7 separate regions of the Homo sapiens genome follow, and regions 1, 2, 3, 4, 5 and 6 are each linked to region 7. The links come from fine-mapping of genetic effects on gene expression. A gene starts in region 7. Each other region holds a variant in brackets. All regions are shown on one strand. Distances are between the middles of the regions. Region 1 overlaps GLG1 (golgi glycoprotein 1). Region 2 overlaps GLG1 (golgi glycoprotein 1). Region 3 overlaps GLG1 (golgi glycoprotein 1). Region 4 overlaps GLG1 (golgi glycoprotein 1). Region 5 overlaps GLG1 (golgi glycoprotein 1). Region 6 overlaps MLKL (mixed lineage kinase domain like pseudokinase). Region 7 holds the start of RFWD3 (ring finger and WD repeat domain 3).

Region 1 (4,068 bases), 150 kb after region 7:
GTGGTGCTTGGTTTTCTGATCTTGTGATAGTTTGCTGAGAATGATGGTTTCCAGCTTCATCCATGTCCCTGCAAAAGACATGAACTCATCCTTTTTTATGGCTGCATAGTATTCCACAGTGTATATGTGCCACATTTTCTTAATCCAGTCTATCATTGATGGACATTTGGGTTGGTTCCAAGTCTTTGCTATTGTGAATAGTGCCACAATAAATATACATGTGCATGTGTCTTTATCATATAATGATTTATAATCCTTTAGGTATATGCCTAGTGATGGGATTGCTGGGTCAAATGGTATTTCTAGTTCTAGATCCTTGAGGAATCATCACAGTGTCTTCCACAATGGTTGAACTAATTTACACTCCCACCAACAGTGTAAAAGCATTGCTATTTTTCCACAACCTCTTTAGCATCTGTTGTTTCTTGACTTAATGGATATTAGCCCTTTGTCACATGGATAGATTGCAAAAATGTTCTCCCATTCTGTAGGTTGCCTGTTCACTCTGATGATAGTTTCTTTTGCTGTGCAGAAGCTCTTTAGTTGAATTAGATCCCATATGTCAATTTTGGTTTTTGTTGCCATTGCTTTTGGTGCCATTGCTTTGCCCATGCCTATGTCCTGAATGGTATTAATACAGCCCAGGTTTTCTTCTAGGATTTTTATCATCCTAGGTCTTACGTTTAAGCCTTTGATCCATCTTGAGTTTATTTTTGTATAAGGTGTAAGGAACGGGTCCAGTTTCAGTTTTCTGCATATGGCTAGCCAGTTTTCCCAACACCATTTATTAAATAGGGAATCTTTTCCCCATTGTTTACGTGTGTCAGGTTTGTCAAAGATCAGATGGTGGTAGACATCTGGTGATATTTTTGAGGACTCCATTCTGTTCCATTGGCCTGTATATCTGTTTTGGTACCAGTACCACGCTGTTTTGGTTACTTTAGCCTTGTAGTATAGTTCGAAGTCGGGTAGCATGATGCCTCCAACTTTGTGCTTCTTGCCCAAGATTTTCTTGGCTATGCTAGCTCTTTTTTGGCTCCATATGAAGTTTAAAGTCGTTTTTACCAATTCTGTGAAGAAAGTCAGTGGCAGCTTGATGAGGATAGCATTGACTCTATAAATTACTTTGGGTAGTAAGGCCATTTTCACGATATTGATTCTTCTATCCACGAGCATGGAATGTTTTTGCATTTGTTTGTGTCCTCTCTTATTTCCTTGAGCAGTGGTTTGTAGTTCTCCTTGAAGAGGTCCTTCACAGCCATTGTGAGTTGGATTCCTAGGTATTTTATTATTTTTGAAGCAATTGTGAATGGGAGTTCACTCATGATTGGGCTCTCTGTTTGTCTGTTATTGATTTATAGGAATGCTTGTGATTTTTACACACTGATTTTGTATCCTGAGACTTTGCTGAAGTTGCTTATCAGCTTAAGGAGATTTTGGGCTGAGATGACGGGCTTTTCTAAATATACAGTCATGTCATCTACAAAGAGGGACAATTTGACTTCTTCTCTTCCTATTTGAATACCCTTTATTGCTTTCTCTTGCCTGATTGCCCTGGCCTGAACTTCCAATACTATGTTGAATAGGAGTGGTGAGAGAGGGCATCCTTGTCTTTTGCTGGTTTTCA[A/G]AGGGAATGCTTCTAGTTTTTGCCCATTCAGTATGATATTGGCTGTGGGTTTGTCATAAATAGCTCTTAGTATGTTGCGATATGTTCCATCGATACCGAGTTTATTGAGAGTTTTTAGTTTGCAAGGCTGTTGAAGTTTGTCAAAGGCCTTTTCTGCATCTATTGTGATAATCATGTGGTTTTTATTACTGATTCTGTTTATGTGATGGATTACGTTTATTGATTTGCATATGTTGAACCAGCCTTGCATCCCAGGGATGAAGCCAACTTGATGGTGGTGGATAAGCTTTTTGATGTGCTGCTGGATTTGGTTTGCCAGTATTTTATTGAGGATTTTCAGCTAGATGTTGATCAGGGATATTGGTCTAAAATTCCCTTTTTTTGTTGTGTGCCAAGCTTTGGTATCAGGATGATGCTGACCTCATAAAATGAGTTAGGGAGGATTCTCTCTTTTTCTATTGATTGGAATAGTTTCAGAAGGAATGGTACCAGCTCCTCTTTGTACCTCTGGTAGAATTCGGCCGTGAGTCCACCTGGTCCTGGACTTTTTTTGGTTGATAGGCTATTAATTATTGCCTCAATTTCAGAACCTGTTATTAGTCTATTCAGAGATTCAACTTCTTCCTGGTTTAGTCTTGGGAGGGTGTATGTGTCCAGGAATTTATCCATTTCTTCTAGATTTTCTAGTTTATTTGCATAGAGGTGTTTATAGTATTTTCTGATGGTAGTTTGTATTTCTGTGGGATCGGTGGTGATAGCCCCTTTATTATTTTTTATTGTGTCTATTTGATTCTTGTCTCTTCTTTATTAGTCTTGCTAGCAGTCTATCTATTTTGTTGATCTTTTCAAAAAAACAGCTCCTGGATTCATTGGTTTATTTTGAAGGGTTTTTTGTGTCTCTGTCTCCTTCAGTTCTGCTCCGATCTTAGTTACTTCTTGTCTTTTGCTAGCTTTTGAAATTGTTTGCTCTTGCTTCTCTAGTTCTTTTAATTATGATGTTAGGGTGTCAATTTTAGATCTTTCCTGCTTTCTCTTGTGGGCATTTAGTGCTGTAAATTTCCCTCTACACACTGCTTTGAATGTGTCCCAGAGATTCTGGTGTGTTGTGTCTTTGTTCTCATTGGTTTCAAAGAACATCCTTATTTCTGCCTTCATTTCGTTATGTACCCAGTAGTCATTCAGGAGCAGGTTGTTCAGTTTCCATGTAGTTGAGCAAGTTTGAGTGAGTTTCTTAATCCTGAGTTCTAGTTTGATTGCACTGTGGTCTGAGAGACAGTTTGTTACAATTTCTGTTCTTTTACATTTGCTGAGGAGTGCTTTACTTCCAACTATGTGGTCAGTTTTGGAATAGGTGTGGTGTGGTGCTGAAAAGAATGTATATTCTGTTGATCTGGGGTGGAGAGTTCTGTAGATGTCTATTAGGTCTGCTTGGTGCAGAGCTGAGTTCAATTCCTGGATATCCTTCTTAACTTTCTGTCTCGTTGATCTGTCTAATGTTGACAGTGTGGTGTTAAAGTCTCCCATTATTATTGTGTGAGAGTCTAAGTCTCTTTGTAGGTCTCTAAGAACTTGCTTTATGAATCTGGGTGCTCCTGTATTGGGTGCATATATGTTTAGGATAGTTAGCTCTTCTTGTTGAATTGATCCCTTTACCGTTATGTAATGGCTTTCTTTGTCTCTTTTGATCTTTGTTGGTTTAGGTTTAGAGTCTGTTTTATCAGAGACTAGGATTGCAACCCCTGCCTTTTTTTGTTTTCCATTTGCTTGGTAGATCTTCCTCCATCCCTTTATTTTGAGACTATGTGTGTCTCTGCACGTGAGAGGGGTTTCCTGAATACAGCACACTGATGGGTCTTGACTCTTTATCCAGTTTGCCAATCTGTGTCTTTTAATTGGAGCATTTAGCCCCTTTACATTTTTTAAAATTATACTTTAAGTTTTAGGGTACATGTACACAACGTGTAGGTTAGTTACATATGTATACATGTGCCATGTTGGTGTGCTGCACCCATTAACTTGTCATTTAACATTAGGTATATCTCCTAATGCTATCCCTGCCTTCATTTCGTTATTTACCCAGTAGTCATTCAGGAGCAGGTTGTTCAGTTTCCATGTAGTTGTGCGGTTTTGAGTGAGATATTTAATCCTGAGTTCTACTTTGATTGCACTGTGGTCTGAGAGACAGTTTGTTGTGATTTCTCCTCTTTTACATTTGTTGAGGAGTGTTCTACTTCCAATTATGTGATAAATTTTAGAATAAGTGCAATGTGGTGCTGAGAAGAATGTATATTCTGTTGATTTGGGGTGGAGAGTTCTGTAGATGTCTATTAGGTCTGCCCGCTCCAGAGCTGAGTTCAAGTCCTGGATATCCTTGTTAATTTTCTGTCTCGTTGATATGTCTATTATTGATGGTGGGGTGTTAAAGTCTCCCATTATTATTG
Region 2 (4,068 bases), 98 kb after region 7:
GTCCTCTGATGTCACATTTGCTAATGTTTTACTGACCAAAGCAGGTCAGGTAGCCATGCCCAGATTCAAAAGGTTAAAGTGCCAAGTGAGGTGTGGTTAAAAAAAAAAAAAGACCAAAAAAACACAAAGAGTGAAGGAATTATAATCCATCTGTTTTTTGAGGGGCCAGCGGGTGGTAGGCGGACAGGGTCTTATGCTGTCATCCAAGCTGGAATGCAGTGGCATGATTGTAGCTTGCTGTAGCCTCAAACTCCTGGGCTCAACCCATTCTCCCACTTCAGCCTTCCAAGTGGCTGTGTCTGTAGGCGTGTGCCACCACACCTGGCTGATTTTTTATAGAGACAGGGTCCCACTATGTTGACCAAGCTGGTCTCAAACTCCTGATCTCAAGTGATGCTCCTGCCCTGGCGTCCCAAAGTGTTGTGATTACAGATGAGAGCCACTGTGCCTGGCCTGACTCCATCTGTTGATGGCATGAGCAACAATGTCACATTCAAAGGGCTGTGCTTTCAGAAAGGGGGGCAGGTGGGATTTGTGGCCTTGAAAAAATCCATCACAGTATAGAATTTTAGGTTGGAATATATTTTTCTTTCAGTGCATTTTTTTTTATTCCACTGTCTTTTGGCTTTCATTTTTGCTATTGAGCAGTTTATTCCTATAGCTTCTTTTAAGATTTTCTGAGGCTGAGAAATGCTTCACAATTATTATGTGAATTAAAAGATAAATGTAAAGAGACAAATACCTGGTAGTTTGCTGGTACCAGTAGAGAGACAAATAGCTGGTGGTTTTATGATGTTTTTGCACCAAAGTTTATTAGACAGCTGGAGAAATGGTGAAGTCAGGTGTGTGTACAAAAGCACCTAGAAGGAAATAGGTGATGTAGAAGTGAAAATATTCATTGGATTTATTATTCTGATTGATTTTTATTAATATAAAAATGAAAATATTTTGTAATTATGGAGCAAAAACCATTTGTCTTTTCAATAAAATTATGAGCCATCAAAAAATTTCAAAACTATTGTTTTTTTTTTTTCTTTCCTTTTCTTTTTTTTGAGACGGGGTTTGCTGTGTTGCCCAAACTGGTCTCAAACTCCTGGGCTCAAGCGATCCACTGGCCTCAGCCTCCCAAAATGCTGGAATTACAGGTGTGAGCCATTGCGCCCGGCCAAAACCGTTGCTTTTTTTTTTTTTTCTTTTTTTTTTTTTGAGTTGGAGTTTCAATCTGTCGCCCAGGCTAGGGTGCAGTGGCGTGATCTTGGCTCGCTGGAACTCTGTTCCCCAGGTTCAAGTGATTCTCCTGCTTCAGCCTCCCATGTAGCTGGAATTACAGGTGAGCCCCACCATGCCCAGCTAATTTTTTGTATTTTTAGTAGAGATGCGGTTTCACCATGTTGGCCAGGCTGGTCTTGAGCTCCTGACCTCAGGTGATCCACCCATCTCGGCCTCCCAAAGTGCTGGGATTACAAGTGTGAGCCACTGTGCATGGCACTATTGCATTTTGATGATACAAGTGCAAATATGAGAACTAGAAATAATGATAAGCTAGACTCTGTTAGAGATGTATTTGAAACTGGAATCAGTATTTACGAGGTGGATGTGTTCCAGGTTTGTGAATGACAGTTGATAAGCAGCTGGCATTGTTCAGTTCAGGTATATATACCTTCAAACCCAAGGAAACATAGAATAAATACTTGGGTTTACTGTGTTTAAATGTCTATTAAAGTTTCTTTGCCTTTCTGCTGATTATCGTTTATGATGTCTTGTTTCAGAAAGGATTTTTATTTGCTTATGCTAGGGAATTCTGACCACTCCATTCTAAGACCATCTTACATCATTCTCACAGTTCGAGGTTTTCTGAAACACCCATACAGTACAAATCTGTGCTCAGATCTGTGGAAAGGCTGGTTTACTTCTGATTCACCCTTGTCTTAAGGGTGTAGCCTTTTGAGATGCCAGCTTTAAGTGAGGACTATCTCATTAGATTTCCTACCTTGGGCAGGCCTTGGGCTTGGTTTCTGCCCACACGGCCCTTCAGTCATTTTGATGGGTTTAGCAAGTGCCTTCAAGGCAGAAGTGAGCTTTTGAGCTCTCCTGTGTTCTTGGGTATGTACCCCCTTTTCCTTCAGTTCTGGCTTGACAGTAATTTACGGTATTTTTAGCTCTTTATTGCTTTTAAGAAGATTTTTGTTTTCCAACACTTTTAGTTGTT[T/C]ATAGTTAAAGGGTTGTTCTAAATAACCACTTCCAGAAGCAGATAACTGCACTTATTTTTAAGCTTTTCTGTTACTTTGCATGTGCACCTGATTTAAGATACTATTGGTTAAGCACTTTGCAAATAGAAAATATACGTACAGGCCAGGCGCAGTGGCTCATGCCTGTAATCCCAGCACTTTGGGAGGCCGAGGTGGGCGGATCACCTGATATCAGGAGTTCTAGACCAGCCTGGCCAACATGGTGAAACCCCGTCTCTACTAAAAACATAAAAATTAGCCAGGCGTGGTGGTGTGCAACTGTAATCACAGCTACTCAGGAGGCTGAGGCAGGAGAATCGCTTGAACCCGGGAGGCGGAGGTTCCAGTGAGCCGAGATCATGCCATTGCACTCCAGCCTGGGCGAAAGAGCAAGAGTCCGTCTCAAAAAAAAAAAAAAAAAGCAGTAAAATTATTCTGATACTTCTTTCTGCTTTATCAGAGTGAGATTTAAGTAAAAAGTTCATGTTCCTCACTATATCAGTTAGGAGTTATGATTCTTTTATAGTAATAGGAAGTCCTTTCCAAACTAGCTTCAGGTAAAAAGAGAATTTGCCTCATATAACTGTAAAGACAAGGTTTAGCACAGGCTTCAGGCTTAGATAGGTATTGATACTTGGCATCTTAGCAGGACTGACTTCTCTTACCATCTGCTTCTGGGCTGGCTTCTTTCACAGTCTCCACGTTGTGGCAAGGTGGCCAAAGTAGCTTTTATTCCTGTTCCTCCATGTGTCCCAGCATTATTGCAAATGTTGTATTGTTTGTCATTGTCTGAGTCCCTGAACCAGTTAGGAATGTTATGTGCATAGTCTTGGATTATGTGGACTCATTTGCTCTATCTGTGTCAGGAATGAGGCCCGACCTGGAGCACTCAGACTGAGATTGACAGAGTTGGGTGAATCCCCAAAAGAAAGCCAGGAGGCTAGAGAAGCAGACAATGAAAGTGCACCATATGGCCGGGCGCGGTGGCTCACGCCTGTAATCCCAGCACTTTGGGAGGCCGAGGCGGGTGGATCATGAGGTCAGGAGATCGAGACCATCCTGGCTAACAAGGTGAAACCCCGTCTCTACTAAAAATACAAAAAATTAGCCGGGCGCGGTGGCGGGCGCCTGTAGTCCCAGCTACTCGGGAGGCTGAGGCAGGAGAATGGCGTGAACCCGGGAAGCGGAGCTTGCAGTGAGCCGAGATTGCGCCACTGCAGTCCGCAGTCCGACCTGGGCGACAGAGCGAGACTCCGTCTCAAAAAAAAAAAAAAAAAAAAAAAAAGAAAGTGCACCATATATAGTAAGGTTTCAGCACAGGAAGCAGTGATTTTTATCTTTTGGAGTTTTACTTCTGACGTGACCCAAATGAAGAATAGTCCTGTGTCCTAGGAAACCCCAATGTTTTGTATTTGCTTCTATCATTAGAATAAAGAGATACCTGTCAATTTCTCATTTCAAATTCTAAAGCGCTGGCATTACAAATTTCAGTGAAACTATTGTGAGCCAGGCCAGAGCTGAGGGACGTGTTACAACATTGGTAATTGAACTTAACTCTGTTCCTCCTACCAACAAAACAAAAGAAACAGCTAACTCCTCTCTCTGTCTGTCTCTCTCTCTCTCTCTCTGTCTCTCTCTCCCCGCTCCCTACACCCCCCACACACAACACACACACACACAATTACATGTAATCATGTAATTTTATTCAAGATTTTCTCCTATAGAAAATTCAAAAATGCTAGATTTTAGGAGACCCATTAAGCGGCCTGAAAGGTTTTCTTAGATTCTTTTTCTGGGCAAAGACAATTTTCTTTTTCTTAGCTTCCTATAGTTTTGCAAC
Region 3 (4,068 bases), 140 kb after region 7:
GTTTATTCTCCCTCAGAATCAAAAGCATAAAAATTCAGCAAAAAATGAGTGCACTGTTGTCATCCATTTGATTAGCAAATATCAAAAATTTGATAAATGGGTTCGCACCTGTACTCCCAACTACTCGGGAGGCTGAGGCTGGAGGACCCCTTGAGCCAGGAGTTCGAGGTAGCAGTGACCTACGATCACAAAACTGCACTGCAGCCTGGGTAACAAAGTGAGCCCCCCATCTCTTAAAAAGAAAAAAAAAAAAAGGATAAATACACAGTATTGATAAGGATGTGTGTATTTAAGCATTCTCTAGCCCATAGATCAAAAAACTACAACACTTAGGCCAAATCCAGTCTACTACCTGTTTTTATACATAAAATTTTATTGAAACAGCCACACCATTTATTTATGTATTGCCAGTGGCTGCTTTTCACACTAGGATGGCAAAGTTGAGTAACTGCAACAGTGACTACAGTTCCCTGAGAACTGTTACTTTCTGGCTCTCTGCAGAAGAAGTTGGCTGAACCCTGTTCAAGCCTATGTATGGGAATAAAAACAAGCTATAAAACAGTCAACCTAAAATGCATATGTTTTGACCCAGCATTTCTACTTCTATGAATTTATGGATAGTTAAAAGAATGGATAGAGATGTGTCTATAAAAGGATATTTGTTGTGGCATTATTTATAAAGCAAAGGATTAGGGGAAAACCTCAAAATCCATCAATAGACTGAATCTGACAGAAGAGAAACCCAGAAAAAAGTTGATGTGTGCCTTGGAACTCTCAAAGAGCCAGCCGGGCGCAGTAGTCCACACCTGTAATCCCAGAATTTTGGAAGGCTGGGTGGATCACCTGAGGTCGGGAGTTTGAGACCAGCCTGGCCAACATAGTGAAACCCCTCTACTAAAAATAAAAAAATTAGCCAGGCGTCGTGGCACACCCCTGTAATCCTGGCTACTCAGGAGTCTGAAACAGGAAAATCGCTTGAACCGGGGAGATAGAAGTTGCAGTGAGATCGTGCCACTGCCCTCCAGTCTGGGTGACAGAGTGAGACTCCGTCACAAAAAAAAAAAAAAAAAAAAAAGAACTCTCAAAGAGCCAAGGAATAGGAAGGATACGATACTGCTGAAAATGGGGGACAAATAGTATCCAAAAAACAGGAGATTTGGTGGAAGGTCTATGTAAGAAGCAGTCAGGACTCTTTAGAGAACAATTATATAACCCAGAAATTCTATAATATAGCCATTCATAATGTCCCGCATGCTATCAGAAATGGCTGGATATGAGAAGAAGCAGGAAGATATCAAGAGATAAAGTAGCCAACAGAGAGAGATCCAGAGAAGAGGTAATTCATATATTGGAATTATTAATAGCAGACAAGGACTTCAAATAACTAATAAAATAGAGGAAAATAAAATATTTTCCTATAAATAAAATAGAGGAAAATAAAATATTTTCCTATAAATAGAGGAAAATTAAAATGGATGAAAATATGAAGTATTTCAACCGAGAATTAGTCTTTATTAAGAAAATCAATTAGACATTTTTGGACTAAATGTAATTTCAGAAATTAAGAACTTATGGGTAGTTTTAAAAGACAGCTTTAGTGGACATAAAAACAGATTCATGGCCAGGTGCGGTGGTTCACGCCTGTAATCCCAGCACCTTGGGAGGTCAAGACAGGTGGATTACTTGAGGTCAGGAGTTCGAGACCAGCCTGTTCAACACGGTAAAAAACCCCATATCTACTAAAAATTACAAAATCAGCTGGGTGTGGTGGCAGGTGCCTGTAATCCCAGCTACTCAAGAGACTGAGGCGGGAGAATTGCTTGAATCTGGGAGGTGGAGGTTGCAGTGAACCACTATCGTACCACTGCACTCCAGCCTGGGCAACAGAGCGAGATTCTGTCTCAAAAAAAAAAAAAA[G/AAG]GCAGACAGAATGGGATAGAAGCAGTATTCGAAGAAATAATGGCCAAGATGTTTTCCAAATCTAATGAGAGGCATTAACCCATAAATTCAACGAACTTAGTGAACCTCAAGAGAAATCCATACTCACCTAACAATTTTTTTTTTTTTTTTTTTTTTTTTGAGACAGAATCTCGCTCTGTCACTGAGGCTGCAGTGCAATGGTGTGATCTCGGCTCACTGAAACTTCCGCCTCTGGGGTTGAAGTGATTCTCCTGCCTCAGCCTCCTGAGTAGCTGGGATTACAGGTGCCCACAACCACGCCCAGCTAACTTTTGTATTTTTAGTAGGGACAGGGTTTCACCATGTTGGTCAGGCTGGTCTCGAACTCCTGACCTCAGGTGATCCACCCGCCTCGACTTGCCAAAGTACTGGGATTATAGGTGTGAGCCACCACACCTAGCCTAGACACATTATTAACAATCTGCCAAAACGAAAAGATAAAAAGAAAACTCAACAAGCAGGCAGAGAAAAAGAGACATTCTCTTGAGGGAAGGAAAATGACAGCTGGCTTCTCAACAAAGCAAGCAGTAGAAACTAGAGCAAATGAAACAATAAATGTAAAATGCTGAGAGAAAATGCCAACATGGAATTCTATATCCAGCAAAAAATACCCCTTTAAAAAATGAAAATAGGCCAGGCACCGTGGCTCACCCCTGTAATCCCAGCATTTTGGGAGGTAGAGGCAGGCAGATCGCTTGAGGCTAGGAGTTGAAGACCAGCCTGGCCAACATGGTGAAATCCTGTCTCTATTAAAAATACAAAAATGGCCAGGTTTTGTGGCTCACGCCTGTAAACCCAGCAGGCAGATCACTAGGTCAGGAGATCGAGACCATCCTGGCTAACACGGTGAAACCCCATCTCTACTAAAAATACAAAAAAGCTAGCCAGGTGTGGTGGTGGGCATCTGTAGTCCCAGCTGCTCGGGAGGCTGAGGCAGGAGAATGGTGTGACCCTGGGAGGTGGAGCTGGCAGTGAGCCGAGACTGCACCACTGCACTTCAGCCTGGGTGACAGAACGAGACTCCATCTCAAAAAAAAAAAAAAAAAGAATTAACCACCGCACCTGTAATCCCATCTACTTGGGAGGCTGAGGCATAAGAATCACTTGAACTGGGGAGGAAGAGGTCGCAGTGAGCTGAGATCCCGCCACGGCACTCACCCCTGGCCGACAGAGCAAGACTCTATCTCAAAAAAAATAAAATAGGTGTTATCAGACAAGCGAAAGCTGAGAATATTCATCTCCCACATTTGCACACTGTGAGAAATCCTAAATTCTTGAAGGTAAAAGGATCACAAATTGAAGCAGAGAAGTAGGAGCACTAGAAGAGAAAAATAATTGATACGTATGACTATTATTCTTTCATGCTTTAAGATAACTGACTTGGCCAGGCGTGGTGGCTCACGCCTGTAATCCCAGCACTTTGGGAGGCTGAGGTGGGTGGATCACCTCAGGTCAGGAGTTCGAGACCAGCCTGGCCAACATGGTGAAACCCCATCTCCACTAAAAATATAAAAATTAGTTGGGTGTGGTGGTGCACACCAGTAATCCCAGCTACTCAGGAGGCCAAGGCGTGAGAATCACTTGAATCTGGGAGGTAGAGGTTGCAGTGAGCCGAGATAGCGCCATTGCACTCCATCCTGGGCAAAAAGAGCAAAACTCCATCTCAAAAAAAAAAAAAAAAAAAAAGAACTGACTTAAGCCAAAACAATAACAGTATACTTTCAGATTATAACATGTAGAATAAAATATATGACAACAGTAGCACAAAGGGTGGGTAGGAATAAAAATATAATTTTACTTTGGAATATTCTTATATTGTGTATGAGGTAGCATAATATCAATTCAATTTCGACTGTGACCAAGTTAAGGATGTATAATCAGGATACAGATTTGTTTCACATAATGATTGTTCAGTTAATGGTATTTAGCCATCATGACCCTTACAGGTTGATAGCACTTTACCCAAAACACAGATTATGCCCTGAGACATTATTGTTCTAAGCAAATTTGCGTGTAGCGACTTACTCAACACTAGTCAGACTATCACATGGAACAAATTTGAATTCTACCTCATAGTTAGGAGTGCTAAAGGAGTGATAGCAGGAAGTGATC
Region 4 (4,068 bases), 110 kb after region 7:
GATTAGCCAGTAGGCAACCTTGAGCAATTCTGTTATCCAGTAGACCTTTAGCAAGATAATTTAAAGAAGTCTGTTTTGTAACCATAGCCTTTGCAGTAGAATCTGCTATGGAGCATATCATGAGGAACAAATTTCTTTTTTTTTTCTTTTTCTTTCTTTTTTTTTTTTTTGAGACAGGGTCTCACTCTGTTGCGCAGGCTGGAGAATAGTGGCGTGATCTCGGCTCCCTGCAACCTCTGCCTCCTGGGTTCAAGCAGTTCTCCCACCTCAGCCTCGCAAATAGCTGGGACTACAGGCACACGCCACCACGCCCCGCTAATTTTTGTGTTTCTGCTAGAGACAGAGTTCCCATTTTGACCAGGCTGGTCTTGAACTCCTGACCTCAAGTGATCTGCCCACCTCAGCCTCCCAAAGTGCTTGGATTACAGGCATGAGCCACTGCGTCCAGCCCATGAGGGACAAATTTCTAGACACTGTATCGTTTACTCCAAACTCTGGAAAAAGTGACCTAACAATGAAGGCCATTCAGAATGATGAAGGCTTCCAAGCACTAGTGTTCTTTTTCACCTCTGATGTAGGTTAAAAGGAGTGGACCAGTGTTCTCTTTCTGACAGAACCATTAAAATTCCTAACCCACATTGGACTGTCATCTTTCATCCATTAAGACATAATGCTGCCTATGGATAAGGTTGGCTGTAAAAGTTTTCACAAATAAAAGTGTGCCCCATTGGTGCACCATAAGACCCCTTTTCTGTTGTTCATAGAGGCATAAACAAGGAAAACATTGAGAGGTAAGAGTCTCATGATGACAGAGAAGTTTTGATCCATGCTTTTGGGAAAGCTGTCCATGTCTAGGGTGCCATCTGCTTCTGGGGGAAAACCTTTTCTAACTGGTTAGCTTTACGTTAAGATTTCCAATGGGTGTACAATTCCAAGTCTGGAGGGGCCCTCCTGCATTGTGATATCAATTGACCCAGTGTTTGAGGCCCCAGAGTTTTGCTTCATTGTGGGTAACAAGGGCAGTGTTTTCCTGACGTCATTTCCAGAAGAACCAACCTCCAGGTTCTAGATTGTGAAGGATTTGAATGTCCTCAGTGGGTGGGTCATGAAAAGCTTCCTTTACTGCCAGCACGGTAGCTCATGCCTGTAATCTCTACACTTTGGGAGGCCGAGGTGGGCGAATCACTGGAGGTCAGGTCTCTGGAACCCAGGAGTTCAAGACCAGCCTGACCAACATGGTGAAACCCCATCTCTACTAAAAATACAAAAATTAGCTGGGTGTGGTGGCGCATGCCTGTAATCCCAGCTGCTTGGGAGGCTGAGGCACAAGAATTGCTTGAACCCGGGAGGTGGAGGTTGCAGAGAGCTGAGATCACACCACTGCTCTCCAGCCTGGGCAACAGAGTGAGACCATCTACAGAAAATAAAAAAAAGAAAAGCTTCCTTTAGCTGGTGAAAATACACTTTGGTATAATGCATTAAAGGCTTGCAGCATTTATTCATATCAGAGTTTGGGAGAGGAAGATACATGAGGTTCTATTATTAGTGGCATAGGCCTTCCAGTGACTATTTCATAATGAGTCAACTTATATTTTCTACTGGAAGCAGATGAGGTTGTCATCAATCTGCAATACCTTTGACCAAGGCAACCAGTCAATTCAGTTAGCTTCACCTAAAGCTGTTGTGTCTGTAATACCTTACTTAACTGTTTACAACTTGTCCAGTGAAACAAGTACCACTATCACTGGAGATTTCTCCAGGAATGCCCCGTGAGGGAAACACATTTTCTGACAACCTTTTAGCTACTGTTATAGCATCAGCCTTCTTGCATGAGAAAGCTTTTACCAGAAAACGTGTTGAAAATGACAGTTGAATGAAATTCCTCTATAAGTGTTCCAATGACCCATCAGGTAGCTGAAGTTTTAATTATCTTCCCAGGTTGTAGGTTTGATAAGCCAAACCTTGGTCATAAACCATTTTTAGCGATTTAGAGCAGTCACCACACCAATGTATATGTTTTCTATTTGGATCATTTTCTGTCTTCCATGATGAGTCATGGAGTGCAGAGCTTTTAATAATGGAAGATTTACGGATTCAGGAAGGACCAGGTGGCTGTGCAGGATCTCTGTGATTCCATGCTTAACA[T/C]TGCATTTATAGCCTGTTAAATACCAATTTTGTATCTCCAATTCAGGTGCATAGCACTGTTCATTAAATGGGTTATCATAGGTAATTTGACTTGGAACATAGAGTTCATTCAAGTTGCATATCTTAACAGTTTTAGTACTGGCTGATTTAGCATGAAAATCTGGCAGAGTATTTTTCTTAGTATTCAGTTAATTTTTGTCCTGCTTGGGTTAGCAGTTTTATAAACCAGTCTCTTTATTAAAGTTCTGGGAATTCTTACCCAGTCCAAATTAGATGAGCCTAAAGTTATCAGAAACTTGTATTCAGTAGTGCTTATTAGGGTCCTTTCCATTACTTTCCATGAACGTTCTTGAAGACATAATGCTCTAGGATTTTACTTGGTTGTAAAGAGCTTAAAGAAAATGCATCCGTATAAAGCAATTAACTGTGGAAACAAAATGATCATGGTTAAAGACATAATTGACAAGAAAATTTGGTTGTGGTCATGAAGGGTGTGAGGGTGCAGGCCTAGGTGCCAATATTGGGGGCAGGGACCTCAGCCTTCTGAGGCTACTCACAGGCATGCTGCCCCCCATGCCCAGCTCTGACACCAGCAGGAGGAAGGTGCTGGCTGCTGCAGGATCCTGGCTTGCTGCCTGTTGGCCCCGATCCTGCCCCATCCCTCCAGCTGGGCACCCCCAGGTGCTGCCATGCAACCAAGCAGGACTGTGCAGGACTGCGCAGGACTGCGTGGTGCCAGACTATATCTCTTCTAAAAATTCATTCAATTTGAAATAACCTTTAAATAACTTTTTTTCTCAGCAAACACATATTTTTATGCCTTTATAGCTTTCCTTACAAAAACATATCTTACTTTCTTTACATATTCTATATACAGAATTGCTTCTCTCTTTCCTTCCTTCTTTCCCTCCCTTCCTCCCTTCTTTTTTTCTTTCGAGATGGGATTGCTGTGTTGCCCAGTCTGGTCTCAATCAAACTCCTGGCTTCCAGAGATCCTCCTGCCTCAGCCTCCAAGTAGCTGGGGTTACAGGCCTAAGCCACCATGCCCAGCTCAGGTTTAATTTTTCTTACAATTAGTTGCTTAAGCTTTGCCTTTTATAAAGAGTTTTTAGGGCTAGGCGCAGTGGCTCATGCCTGTAATCCCAGCACTTTGGTAGGCTGAGGCAGGCAGATCACCTGAGGTCAGTTCAAGGCCATCCTGGCCAACATGCTGAAACCCATCTCTACAAAAATACAAAAATTAGCTAGGCTTGATGGCAGTCAAGTTACTAGTTACTGCGGGGGCAGGGGGGCGGCGGGGGGAGGCTGAGGTGGCAGAATCGCTTGAACCTGGAAGACGGAGGTTGCAGTGAGCTGAGATCGTGCCATTGCACTCCAGCCTGGGCGACAGAGTGAGACTCCGTCTCAAAAAAAAAAAAAAAAAAAGACAAAAACTGAGGTCCCAATTCAAAGCAGTTAGGAGGAAATCCCCCCTTTCTTTGATTCTGGAGTCCTGGGGGAGCTTCAGCCTTTTTGTTCTATTCAGACCTTCAACTGATGGAATGGGACCCACCCACATTGGGAAGGACAGTCTGCTTTGCTAGTCTGCCTGTCCAAGTGCTAATCTCATCCAAAAACAGCACCGTAGACCCACCCAGAACAATGTTTGGCGAAACGCGTGTGGCCCAGTGAAGTTGACACAAAAAATTAACCATCATCCTCATAAAATACCTAGTACAATCTGAATAAAATGTGTACCATTGTTGGTTCTTTAGTTGTGACAGATTGCACTATATAAAGTAAGCTATTAACAATAGGGGAAAATGAGAAGGCATATGGGAACTCTGTGTGCTGTCTTCTCAACTTTTCCATTAAGTCTAAAATTCTCCAGTGGTTTATTTTTTAAAATAATAAATTCAAAATAAAATTATGTTTTAGGCATGT
Region 5 (4,068 bases), 160 kb after region 7:
CATTTGATCTTCAATCACTGATCATTTCTTCCGCTTGATCAAATCGACTATTGAAGCTTACGTATGCTTCACGAAGTTCTCGTACTGTGGTTTTCAGCTCCATCAGGTCATTTAAGCTCTTCTCTACACTGGTTATTCTAGTTAGCCATTTGTCTAACCTTTTTTCAAGGTTTTTAGCTTCCTTTTGATGGGTTAGAACATGCTCGTTAAGCTCAGAGAAGTTTGTTATTACCGACCTTCTGAAGCCTACTTCTGTCAACTTGTCAAATTCGTTCTCCTTCCAGTTTTGTTCCCTTGCTGGTGAGGAGTTGTGTTCCTTTGGAGAAGAGGCATTCTGGTTTTTGGAATTTTCAGCCTTTCTGCTCTGGTTTCTCCCCATCTTCTACCTTTGGTCTTTGATGTTGGTGACCTACGAATGGGGTCTTGGTGTGGATGTCCTTTTTGTTGATGTTGATGTTGATGCTATTCCTTTCTGTTTGTTAGTTTTCCTTCTAAGAGACAGGCCCCTCAGCTGCAGGTCTGTTGGAGTTTGCTGGAAGTCCATTCCAGACCCTGTTTGCCTGGGTATCACCAGCGGAGGCTGCAGAACAGCAAATATTGCTGCCTGATTCTTCCTCTGGAAGCTTCGTCCCAGAGGGGCACCTGCCTGTATGAGATATCTGTTGGCCCCTACTGGGAGGTGTCTCCCAGTAGGCTGACTATATTTTCAAGGAGCTTGACTGAAGGAAATTTTTCCCTTCATCCCCTAGCCCACACCCTAATCCTGTAATTACTTTATTCTAAGTATCTCAAGTATATCCCATCTTTTTTCATTCAAATAAGTTCTTGCCTCTTGGTCTACTAACCTCCCTAAATCCTGCCCTTCTCCAGTGTAATCAGATGTGATCTTTTGAGTTCTTTGGTCAAAATTATCCATTAACCTTCCATTTCCTTTAAGATAAAATTCAAAACCTTTAATATGAACTGCGGTATTCAATGTGATCTGACCCCTGCGCCCCATCTCATCTTTCATACCTTCAACTCCAGCTATTCTGAACTCTGTTTCCATAGGTTATCATTTATTCTTTGTGTCCTTTCTACTTTTGTACACTTAGAAGCCCAATCTCCGTCAGTTCATCTGACTAAATTGCTTCTTATCCCTGAGGATCAAGCCCAGGATGACTGGACTGCTACCAAGACTCCCTGTCCCTCCTCTTACCACTCACCAAAATGTGTTCTTCCTTTGTGTTCTGTAAAATCTCCTGCATGCTTGTTATCACATTTATCACACTATATTTTTATTGTTTATTCCCTTTCCAACCTGACTCTTCCTTCTTTTGTCCTCCTGTGGTTGAGCTTCTTGACTTGCTGAGACAATGGTCTTTTTTTTTTTTTCCTTCCTTCACCTTTCTCATCCCCATTACCTAGAAGGATGTCCAGATTATAGTAGTTACTCATTACACGTTTGGGATGGATGAACAGATAGATTCATGGATGGATGTCTTAAGATTTGAGGCCAGGCGCGATGACTCACGTCTGTAATTCCAGCACTTTGGGAGGCTGGAAGCCAGCAGATCACGAGGTCAGGAGATCGAGACCATCCTGGCCAACATGGTGAAACCCCATCTCTACTAAAAATTCAAAAATGTAGCTGGATGTGGTGGCGCACACCTGTAATCCCAGCTAGTACGGAGGCTGAGGCAGGAGAATTGCTTGAACCCGGGGGGCGGAGGTTGCAGTGAGCCGAGATCACACTTGCATCACTGTACTTCTAGCCTGGGCAAAAATTTTTTTTTTTTTTTTTAATATGGATTCTCGCTCTGTCACCCAGGCGGAGGCTTCAGTGAGTCGAGATCGCGCCACTGCACTTCAGCCTGGGTGACAGAGCAAGACTCCGTCTGAGAAAAAAAAAAAAAAGAAATAAAAGACCAGAAAGTAGATTAATGGTTGCCAGAAGATGAGGGTAGAGAGGATAAAGTGTGACAGAATGGGTGTGGGCTTCTGTTTGGGGTGATA[A/G]TGTTCTATAATTAGGCAATGGTGGTTGTTGCCCATCCTTGTGAATAAAGTAAAAAACCACTGAATTGTACACTTTAGAGAGGTAAATTTTATGGTATATGAATTATATATCAATTTGAAATGAACAAAAAAAAGATGAGATACAGTAAAATGTTTAGCATTTGACAATACTGTCATGGTTCTTAGGGAAGAGACTTGTTCATAAGGAAATTTATGCCTGTCAGAACAAGTAAGTTTTCAAATTAAAAGGTGAAGACATTCAAAAAATCTAAATGGTCATCTAAACGTCTGTTGGCGGAAAATCTATTTCTAGCTCAATTGTAGGACATCTGACTTTGCATTCGATAAAATAGTAAGGAAATATTCTGCTTATAGTTTTAATTTTTCTGGCTTTTGTTACTGTTTGTCCTAAATTTTTGTGATACCAGAAAGCTTTTCTTTTCTTTCTTTCTTTCTTTCTTTTTTTTTTTTTTTTTAAAAAAAAAAGGTTCAAGTTATTCTCCTGCCTCAGCCTCCAGAGTAGCTGGGATTACAGGCATGCACCACCACGCCTGGCTAATTTTTATATTTTTAGTAGAGACCGGGTTTCCCCATGTTAGCCAGACCAGTCTTGAACTCCTGACCTCAGGTTATCCACCTACCTTGGCCTCCCAAAGTGCTGGCATTACAGGCATGAGCCACCATGCCCAGCCTAAAAACTCAGTTATTGATGGTAGCCGAGAGATGAGAGCTTTTACTCATATTTTTGTTTTTGAGGAGGGAGGAGAAGAAATCCTACCCATCCTTTGTGTTTTCTTCAGATCTTCCTCAGCACTCATACAGAATTAACTGCATGCTTCCATGTCATTTCTAATGTACTTTTTATATGCCTCTGTCCTTCTAAAAAGCAGATCTGGTCGTGTCACCCCCTACTTTCTCTTCTGCGATTCCCCGTTATTCTTGGGTTAAAGTTCAGTCATGGCTTACAAAGGCTTTCTGATCTGGCCTGGCTTGAGGCTCCTCGGTCAGTCCTCCATTGGACTTCTGGTTCCCTCCACCCCTTGCTTCCATGGATGCGGTGTCATCTGCCTAAAAAAGTCTTCTCCCTACCCTTGAATCTGGCTAACTGCTTCTAGCCTTTCAGGTTTCATCTTAGCATTTTCTATGGTAAATCTTCCCTGACCAAACTCCCCATCCCTCCCCAGTTTGGAATATTCCTCCCCTATACTGCTGTGGTACCCAGTGATGCCATTAGCCAATTACTTGATCATACTCCCTGCCATTGACTGTAGCTGCCACTGGACAGTCTTTGTCCTTCTCCTTATGTTTTATCCACCAGTTCCTAACACTGTGTCTGGAACACAGTATGTACTCAGTAAACATTTGCTTGTTTCTTCTAATAGCCTATCTGTGAAACGCATTGCCAAGCAGATATTTAACTGAATCAGTGATTGATGACTGTATTTTTTTGTCTAGGAGTATATAGTAGCCAGAGAGGAATGTACCCCCCTCCAAAAATGAATATATACATACATCTTCATGTTCTACATCATCCCAAGTCTCTGCTCTATCTCACCAACTGAACAATTTAAGGCTCATTTTTGCTTAGTTTCAGAAATTGGATCACTTATCAAAATATTTTTATGGAAGCTTCAAAAATAAAGTAATATTTAGTCATTATCTGCAAGAATAGGCTTTAGATATTTTCTAGTGTAACATGTGTTAAAACAGTTGTATAAAGTGGACCTTATGGGCTGGGTGCAGTGGCTCACTCTTGTAATGCCAGCACTTTGGGAAGCCAAGGTGGGTGGATCACCTGAGGGCAGGAGTTCAAGACCAGCCTGACCAACATGGAGAAACCCCATCTCTACTAAAAATACAAAATTAGCCAGGCATGGTGGCACATGCCTGTAATCCCAGCTACTCGGGAGGCCGAGGCAGGAGAATTGCTTGAACCTGGGAGGCAGAGGTTGTGGTGAGCCGAGATCGCGCCATTGCACTGCAGCCTGGGCAATAAGAGGGAAACTCTGTCTCAAAAAAAAAAAAAAAAAGTAGACCTTATAGTGTATGTGTCAAGTGTTTTAAGGGAATCAA
Region 6 (4,068 bases), 21 kb before region 7:
TAATCCTACTAGAATCCACCTTTGTATGTGACGTTATGTAGGGTCAACTTTTATTTTTAGCCACATAGTAAGTCAGTTTTCTCTATACCATCTATTAAGTCGTCTGTCTTTTCCCTGTTGATTTGTGGTACCATATTTATTGTATATTAAGTTTTTATATAGACATAGATCTGACTCTGATCTGTCTAATCTTTCCCACTGATCAATTTGTCTGTTTTTGTACCAGTAACACACTGTTACTGTTTTTTTCATATGACTTTGCAGTAAATTTCGATATCTGGTAAAGAACTTCCTCCTCTTGATTCTTCTTTTTCAGGTTGACTTAGCTGAATAAATATCAAAGAAAGTTTTATCACACTCCTCAAAATACACATCAAGATTTTCATTGAGACTGTATTTTTAACAGTTTTATTGAGATATATTTTACATACCGTAAGATTTACCTATTTAAAATGTACAATTTAATGGCTTTAAATATATTTACAGGCCAGGTGCAGTGGCTCACGCCTGTAATCCCAGCACTTTGGGAGGCCAAGGAGGGCAGATCACCTGAGGTCAGGAGTTCAAGACCAGCCTGGCCAACATGGTGAAACCCCGTCTCTACTAAAAAATACAAAAATTAGCTGGGCATGGTGGCATGAGCCTATAATCCCAGCTACTTGGGAGGCTGAGGCAGGAGAATCACTTGAACCTTGGAGGCCAAGGTTGCAGTGAGCTGAGATCGTGCCACTGCACTCCAGCCTGGGTAACAGAGCAAGACTCCAACAAAAAAAAAAAAGAAAAAAAAAAGAAAAAAGGAAGGAAGGAAGGAGAAACCCTATACCCACTAGCAGTCATTCCTCTTTCACCCCTATCACCACCATCCTGAGCCCAGGCAACAGTCCTACCTTCTGTCTCTATAGATTTGCCTTTTCTGAATCTTCAATGTAAATGGAATAATACAATATGTGGCCTGTTGAGTCTGGCTTCTTTCACTTAGCATGATATTTTCAAGGTTCATCTATATTATAGCAAGTATCATTTCTTCATTCCTTTTTATGGCTGAATGATAGTCTGTTGTATGGATATCCTACTTATCCATTAATCAATTGAAGGACCTTGTGTTTTTTCCACTTTTTGATTATTATGAATAATGTTTCTGTGTACATTCATGTACAGGTTTTGGGGGTTTTTTGTTTTGTTCTGTTTGAGATGGAGTCTTGCTCTGTCACCCAGGCTGGAGTGTAGTGGTGTGATATCAGTCACTGCAACCTCCATCTCCTAGGTTCAAGCAATTCTCATGCCTCAGCCTCCCGAGTAGCTGGAACTACAGGCATGCACCACCAGGCCCAGTTAATTTTTGTATTTTTAGTGGTGACAGGGTTTCACCATGTTGGCCAGGCTGGTCTGAAACTCCTAACCTCAAGCAATCCACCCACCTTGGCCTCCCAAACTGCTGGGATTACAGGCTTGAGCCACTGCACCTGGCCCTCCTGTGTTTTCTTCTAAGAGTTTATAGTTTTTGGCTCTTATATTTAGGTTTCCGAAGTTAGAGTTAATTTTGGTGTATTGTATAAGGTAGTCATTCAACTTCATTTTTCTGCATGTTGATATTCACATGTCCCAGAGCCATTTGTTTAAAAGACTGTGCTGGCCTGGCACTGCAGCTCACATCTGTAATCCTAGCACTTTGGGAGGCCGAGGCAGGTGGATCACTTGAGGTCAGGAGTTTGAGACCAGCCTAGCCAACATGGCGAAACCCCATCTCCACTAAAAATACAAAAATTAGCCGGGCGTTGGCTGGGCGCAGTGGCTCACGACTGTAATCCTAGCACTTTGGGAGGCCAGGGCGGGCAGATCACCAGGTCAGGAGATCAAGACCATCCTGGCTAATATGGTGAAACCCGTCTCTACTAAAAATACAAAAAATTAGCCAGGTGTGGTGGCGGGCACCTGTAGTCCCAGCTACTCAGGAGGCTGAGGCAGGAGAATGGTGTGAACCTGAGAGGCAGAGCTTGCAGTGACCTGAGATCACGCCACTGCACTCCAGCCTGCTTGACAGAGCAAGACTCCATCGCAAAAAAAAATAGCCAGGCGTGGTGGCAGGCACCTGTAGTCCCAGCTACTTGGGAGGCTGAGGCAGTAGAATCTCTTGAACCCAGAAGGCAGGTATTGCAGTGAGCAGAAATTGCATCGCTGCACTCCAGCCTGGGTGACAGAGCAAGTTCCAAAAAAAAAAACTGTGAAAAATCAACTGGCTTTATATGTATGAGTTTATTTCCGGACCCCCAATTCTATTCCATTGATCTGTTTGTCTA[G/C]TCTTATGATAGCACTATACTGTCTTCATTACTGTAACCTTGTGATAAGTTTTGAAATTGAGAAGTATAAGTCTTCCAGCTTTGTTCTTCTTTTGCAAGACTGTCTTGGCTATCCTGAATTCCTTTCATTTCCACACAAATTTTAGGAATATCTTGTCAATTTCAGTTTTTGTTTTTGCTTTTTTTTTTTAAGCCAACTACAAATCGGGTAAGGATTGCATTGAACCTGTAGGTCAATTTGGAAAATGTTACCATCTTAATGGTATAAAGTCTTCCTATTCAAGAACATGGGACGTGTTTCCATTTATTTAGATCTTTTAAAATTTCTTGCTGGGTGCAGTGAGTTATGCCTATAATCCCAGCACTTTGGGAGGCTGAGGCAGGAGGATCACCTGAGGTCAGGAGTTCGAGACTAGTCTGGCCAACATGGTGAAACCCCGCCTCTACTATAAATACAAAAATTAGCCGGGCATGGTAGCAAGCGCCTGTAATCCCAGCTATTCGGGAGGCTGAGGCAGGAGAATTGCTTGAACCCAGGAGGCAGAGGTTGCAGTGAGCCGAGATCATGCCATTGCACTCAGCCTGGGCGACAAAAGTGAGGCTCCATCTCAAAAAACAAACAAACAAAACAAAACAAAATTCTTTCAACAATTTAGGTACAAAATTTTCAGGGTGAGACTTGCACTTCTTTTGTAAATTTATTCCTAAGTATTTTATTCTCTTTATGCTATTGGAAATGAAAATTTTTAATTTAATCTTTTGATTGTTAATTGCTAGCAGATAGAAATACAATTGATTTTTATAGGCTCTGAACCTGCCCTGATTCTCTGACAGACCTTGGACAAGCCTCCTTTGCCCTTTGAGTCTAAGACTCAGAGTGAATGAACAGATTGGATTGAGTTGGTGGTTCCAGTGATCCTCTTTAATAATTTACCTGCCTACATTTTTTAAGGCCCACGTTTTGGAAGGAATTTTGGTTATAAGATTTCACTTAATAAATATCTTTTTTTGTGTGTGTGTGGAGACGTAGTCTCGTTCTGTCACCCAGGCTGGAGTGCAATGGTGTGATCTCGGCTCACTGCAAGCTCCACCTCCTGGGTTCACGCCGTTCTCCTGCCTCAGCCTCCCAAGTAGCTGGGGCTACAGGCGCCCGCCACCACACCCAGCTAATTTTTTTGTATTTTTAGTAGAGACGGGGTTTCACCATGTTCGGCAGGATTGTCTCGAACTCCTGACCTTGTGATCCACCTGCCTCGGCCTCCCAAAGTGCTGGGATTACAGGCATGAGCCACCACGCCCGGCCTAGTATCATTATTTTTATTCATCAAAGACACACACCACGGGCTGGGCACGGTGACTCACACCTGAAATCCCAGCACTTTGGGAGGCGTAGGCAGGCAAATCACTTGAGGCCAGGAGTTTGACACCAGCCTGGCCAACATGGTGAAATCATGTCTCTGCAAAAAAAATACAAAAATTAGCCAAGCATGGTGGCACGCACCTGTAGTTCCAGCTACTCAGGTGGCTGAGGCATGAGAATTGCTTCAACCTGGGAGGTGGAGGCTGCAGTGAGCCAAGATCGCACCACTGCACTCCAGCCTGGGTGACAAAGCAAGACCCTGTCTCCAAAAAAAAAAAAAAGACACACACCACAATCTGTCAGAGTATATGCTAAACAACAGGTTACAGCCTAAAAACAGTAACAAATACTTGACTTTTTAGTTTGCCTAGTAAAGCCCTGTAGGTCATAAAAATACAATTCTATCAGACT
Region 7 (4,068 bases):
CCCAGCTACTCAGGAGGCTGAGGCAGGAGAATCACTTGAACCCAGGAGGTGGAGGTTGCAGTGAGCCGAAATCATGCCATTGCACTCCAGCCTGGGCAACAGAGCGAGACCCTGTCTAAAAAAAAAAAAGTTCTAGAGCTAAAAAAGATTATTCATATGGCACAAAGTGATCTCCTACTAGTCCAAAGTTCAAAAACATTTTAATAAAGTCCATTCATATATCTTTTGTTTGCTTTCCAATGGAATACTACGTTTATTGAGGCAAAATCACATTATTTTTAGTTCTTGGAGTCAAAAAGCGTACACGAATGTTCTTCAACACAGTTACTAAAAATACAAGACCAAGTTGAATGTGCCAAAGAGATACCATTCAGTTGGGTTTTCTAGAGTCATCAGGAAGAATATTAGAGAAGGGATTTACATGGTTGGTTTCCATAGCTTGATAGACCAAACACACACAAAAAAACTGCCACAACAACAAACAGCAAAATTTTTATCCATACAGGAATGGAGCGTCCCTTTTTTTTGTATTTTCTCACTTGACGTCTGCCAAGGGAACATACTTAGGAACATATGTAGATGAAAACGACTCCTCCATCCTCAAATCACTGAGTTCTAATGGCCGGCCTGCAGCTCCTTTGATTGTTCTGCGGCAACTAGCACTAATTCTTGTTGGTGTAGTTGCTTCATAGGGGAACATTTCCTTAAGAATATCCCTTTCTACTCTTCTTTCCTGTGTTTTTTTTCTCCCACTTCAGCTCTTGTCAATGGTTTCTTTGGTGTTCTTCTGGGTATGTCTGAGAATTCAGTGACTGGCAGAATAGGAAATGCATGCTTGAAATTTCCAGTCACCCTATTGACAATTAAGGATTCGTTGTTTGAAGCAATTATAGTTTCAGCTATGGGAGTACTCGCTGAAATTACTGCTCCATCTATACGAAAATATTCTGAAGCGTGCACCCTTTTGCTTGGAGTTCTTCTTGACCCTCTTGTAGATTCCCTAGTTAATAATGCCTGCAGAGGTCCGCCTTTTGAAGATCCACTTGTCCATTCAGTCCCAGTTATTCCAGCTTGAGAATAGCTCTCCTTGTGCTCAACTCTTCTTTGCTTGAGGGTTACTGGAGTCTTTACTCCCCTGTTTAGCGGTTCTCTCTTCTCAAACTTGAGCCCAATTTAGAGTCTTCTTCATTTTCACCATATCTGTCAGAATCATTACTTCCATTCTGCCTTGTATTTTCTGCTGAAGAAGAAATTGTTGCTGAAGGAGACGATCTTGATTCTGTTCCTTGCTCCCTCAGTTTCAAAAGCTATTTCTCATACAGCTTCCTGGTTGTTCCCACAATAGGACCACAATTCACTCCGTATTTCACAAGCTGATCCAAAGGATCTTCATTAGTGAGTTCTGTTACATCTAGATCGTCTTTATCATCTTGTCTGGGTTTATCAGTTTTCTTTGTGGCTTTCCTGCCGGCGGCGGGCTCGGAGCCGAGACGGCTGTGGGCTCGCGCTCCTCGTACGTAGCTGGAGAATTCCGGGGGCCCCTTTCTTTTGGCGCTGGCGGCGAGCGGCGGCCCTAACAAGTGATTTGAGACTGTTCAGTAGCTCAGATCCCTTGCAGCGGTTTGAGATTGAAGAGATTATGTAGGCAAAGTATTTTGCGTGAGCTCTTCAACCCCATGAGAGGATACATATGAACTGGACTGTCCTACGCCTCTTTACAGGCTCCGAAATTCAAAATATTGAAATATTTTGAAATTATTCGATTAGCTGCTATCCTTTGGATACAGATAACTCCTTCACTAAAGCGTTAGGGATAAGCAGCAGGAGTCAGTTTTAATATCATCATCCCCATTCCAAAATGGACCGAGAAATCATATAACTTTCTCCCGCCAGAAAGTTCAAATAAAACGCGCTAAAAAAAAAAAAAAAAACCAAACAAAAAAAAAACAAAAAAACCTCCCATTTTTTCCGGGGCGGGTGCAAGGTGACGGACGTAGATTCCTGCCAATTGTAGGAGGCTTCCTCAAGCGCGGTCCCGCCTCGTCAGGACGAACTACCAGCCAATGAGAGCACCGCTGCTTCAGCTATCGGGGGACCCATTGAAGAAGAAGAGTGGGTATTGGCCACAGCGTAGGGCTTCTGTCCAATAGGAGCATGCCTGCCGGCGGCTCTGGCGGGAGCTTGAGCGGCTCCGGAAGTGGCAGTTGGCGTAGGTGCATTCGGAGTGCGGCCGAGGTAACTACCGAGTCTTCGGCGGGCTCGCGAGCCCGGCCGCGGCCTGCTGGTTTCAGGTGAGGAGGGGTGTTGCTTCTCCTCAGGCCTTGGGCCTCTAGCTTCGGGATAAACCTCCCCACGCCTGATTCCTGGATTGGGATTCAGGAGACACCCCACGAGGTGGGCTGCACGCGGGCTTGGAACCCGGCGGCCTGAGGGGATTCGGGCCCTCGGGGCGGCGCCAGTGGTCGGGGCTAAGGAGCCCGAACCCCCGCGCGTATCTGGGTTGCTGGGCGTGGGGGCTGGGCAGGCGAGAGCTCGGGGCGATCACTGAAGGAGCCGAGTTCGCTGCTGCGGGGCCTGCCCTGGCCGGGGTGGGAGGTCGCCCGGCCCTTCCCCCGAGAGCCTAGCCTCGGGCTCCTCAGCGGCGTTGCCTGCGCCCGCTCTGAGCGCCGATTACTTCATCACTTTAAAGTTGATGGAAGAACTTCATTTTTAATTTCATCACGGAAACTGTGGAGTAAAGACTTGTATTATCCCTGTTTTACAGGAGAACAAGTTGAGCCGAGTTTAGGAAACCCGCCCAAAGTTTCCCCATGTAGTAAAAGAACAGGGATTTAATATCTATGTATCTAATCAATCTATCTATCTATCTATCTATCTATCTATCTATCTATCTAATCTGTCTATCTAATCTATCTATGTCTTTCTTTCCCCATGTAGTAAAAGAACAGGGATTTAATTTCCTTCTTTCCCTCTCTCCCTTCCCCTCCCGTCTCCCTCTCCCTCCTCTTCCCCCTCCGCCTCTCCCTCTCCCTCTCTCTTCCTCCCTTTTTCCTGTTATAAAGAGAAAAAGGTGTTATAAAGAGAAAAGCGGTGGCTCAGGCCTGTAATCCCAGCACTTTGGGAGGCCGAGGCAGTCGGATCACCTGAGGCCAGGAGTTCGAGACCAGCCTGACCAACATGGAGAAACCCCATTTCCCAGCTACTCGGGAGGCTGAGGCAGGAGAATCGCTTGAACCCGGGAGGCCGAGGTTGCAGTGAGCTGAGATCACGCCATTGCACTCCAGCCTGGGCAACAAGAGTGAAACTCCATCTCAAAAAAAGAAAGAAAGAAAGAAAGAAAAGTCTCCCTGTTGCACCCAGGCTGGAAGAGCTCACTGCAGTCTCGAACTCCCGGGCCCCAGGGATCCTCCCACCTCGGCTTCCCGCAATAGCTGGGACCACAGGTGCGCGCCACCACGCCCGGCTCATTGTTTTATTTTTCTTTTTTCTTTCTTTTTTTGAGATAGAGTCTCGCTTTGTTGCCCCTGCTGGAGTGCAGTGGTGCGATCTCGGCTCACTGCAACCTCTGCCTCCCGGGTTCAAGCGATTCTCCTGCCTCAGCCTCCCAAGTAGCTGGGATTACAGGCATGCGCCACCACACCCGGGTAGTTTTTGTATTTTTAGTGGAGACGGGGTTTCACCATATTGGCCATTCTGGGACTCCGACCTCAAGTGGTCTGCCCTCGGCTTCCCAAAGTGCTGGGATTACAGGTGTGAGCCACCGCGCCTGACCTGTTCTATTTTTCTTTTTTGGTAGAGATGGGAATTTCACTGTGTTGCCCAAGCTGGTCTGGAACACCAGAGCGTAAGTGATCCATCCGCCTGGGCATTTCAGTGTCCAGGGATCACAGGCGTGACCCTCTGCACCGGCCAGAGCAAAGATTTGAACACTTCCCCCGCCCACCTCTTCTCAACCTTTAATTGAGGGGCTTTCGTCCTGCCTGTTGTGGCCATTGATTGAAACCTGAGTAACAAAGATGACAAGTCTGAGGTTGACATTTTAAGCACCGCTCACAGCACACATAAAAA

What was found.
Region 1: its variant is fine-mapped to the expression of RFWD3 in whole blood (TOPMed, PIP above 0.99). The same link has a PIP of 0.9 or more in breast, esophagus muscle, stomach, thyroid and tibial nerve.
Region 2: its variant is fine-mapped to the expression of RFWD3 in whole blood (TOPMed, PIP above 0.99).
Region 3: its variant is fine-mapped to the expression of RFWD3 in whole blood (INTERVAL, PIP above 0.99).
Region 4: its variant is fine-mapped to the expression of RFWD3 in whole blood (TOPMed, PIP above 0.99).
Region 5: its variant is fine-mapped to the expression of RFWD3 in whole blood (INTERVAL, PIP 0.98).
Region 6: its variant is fine-mapped to the expression of RFWD3 in whole blood (TOPMed, PIP above 0.99).

Annotation. Positions count from the first base shown.
Region 1 is chr16:74,515,186-74,519,253 of GRCh38, reverse strand. The region is part of intron 2 of GLG1 (golgi glycoprotein 1); the gene reads left to right. Among named protein-coding and RNA genes, the nearest start is that of GLG1, 90 kb to the left of the region's middle. The variant A/G (reference allele first, on the strand shown) is at 1,628.
Region 2 is chr16:74,567,000-74,571,067 of GRCh38, reverse strand. The region is part of intron 1 of GLG1 (golgi glycoprotein 1); the gene reads left to right. Among named protein-coding and RNA genes, the nearest start is that of GLG1, 38 kb to the left of the region's middle. RefSeq lists an enhancer at 2,828-3,327. The variant T/C (reference allele first, on the strand shown) is at 2,210.
Region 3 is chr16:74,526,820-74,530,887 of GRCh38, reverse strand. All of the region lies in intron 2 of GLG1 (golgi glycoprotein 1), which reads left to right. Among named protein-coding and RNA genes, the nearest start is that of GLG1, 78 kb to the left of the region's middle. The variant G/AAG (reference allele first, on the strand shown) is at 1,918.
Region 4 is chr16:74,559,829-74,563,896 of GRCh38, reverse strand. All of the region lies in intron 1 of GLG1 (golgi glycoprotein 1), which reads left to right. Among named protein-coding and RNA genes, the nearest start is that of GLG1, 45 kb to the left of the region's middle. The variant T/C (reference allele first, on the strand shown) is at 2,146.
Region 5 is chr16:74,509,989-74,514,056 of GRCh38, reverse strand. The region is part of intron 2 of GLG1 (golgi glycoprotein 1); the gene reads left to right. Among named protein-coding and RNA genes, the nearest start is that of CLEC18B, 91 kb to the right of the region's middle. The variant A/G (reference allele first, on the strand shown) is at 1,996.
Region 6 is chr16:74,685,833-74,689,900 of GRCh38, reverse strand. The region is part of intron 4 of MLKL (mixed lineage kinase domain like pseudokinase); the gene reads left to right. Among named protein-coding and RNA genes, the nearest start is that of MLKL, 13 kb to the left of the region's middle. The variant G/C (reference allele first, on the strand shown) is at 2,298.
Region 7 is chr16:74,665,009-74,669,076 of GRCh38, reverse strand. RFWD3 (ring finger and WD repeat domain 3) reads left to right here and starts at 2,200. Exons shown (of 13, transcript NM_018124.4): 1 at 2,200-2,291. It also overlaps the pseudogene TMPOP2. RefSeq lists a silencer at 2,521-2,670.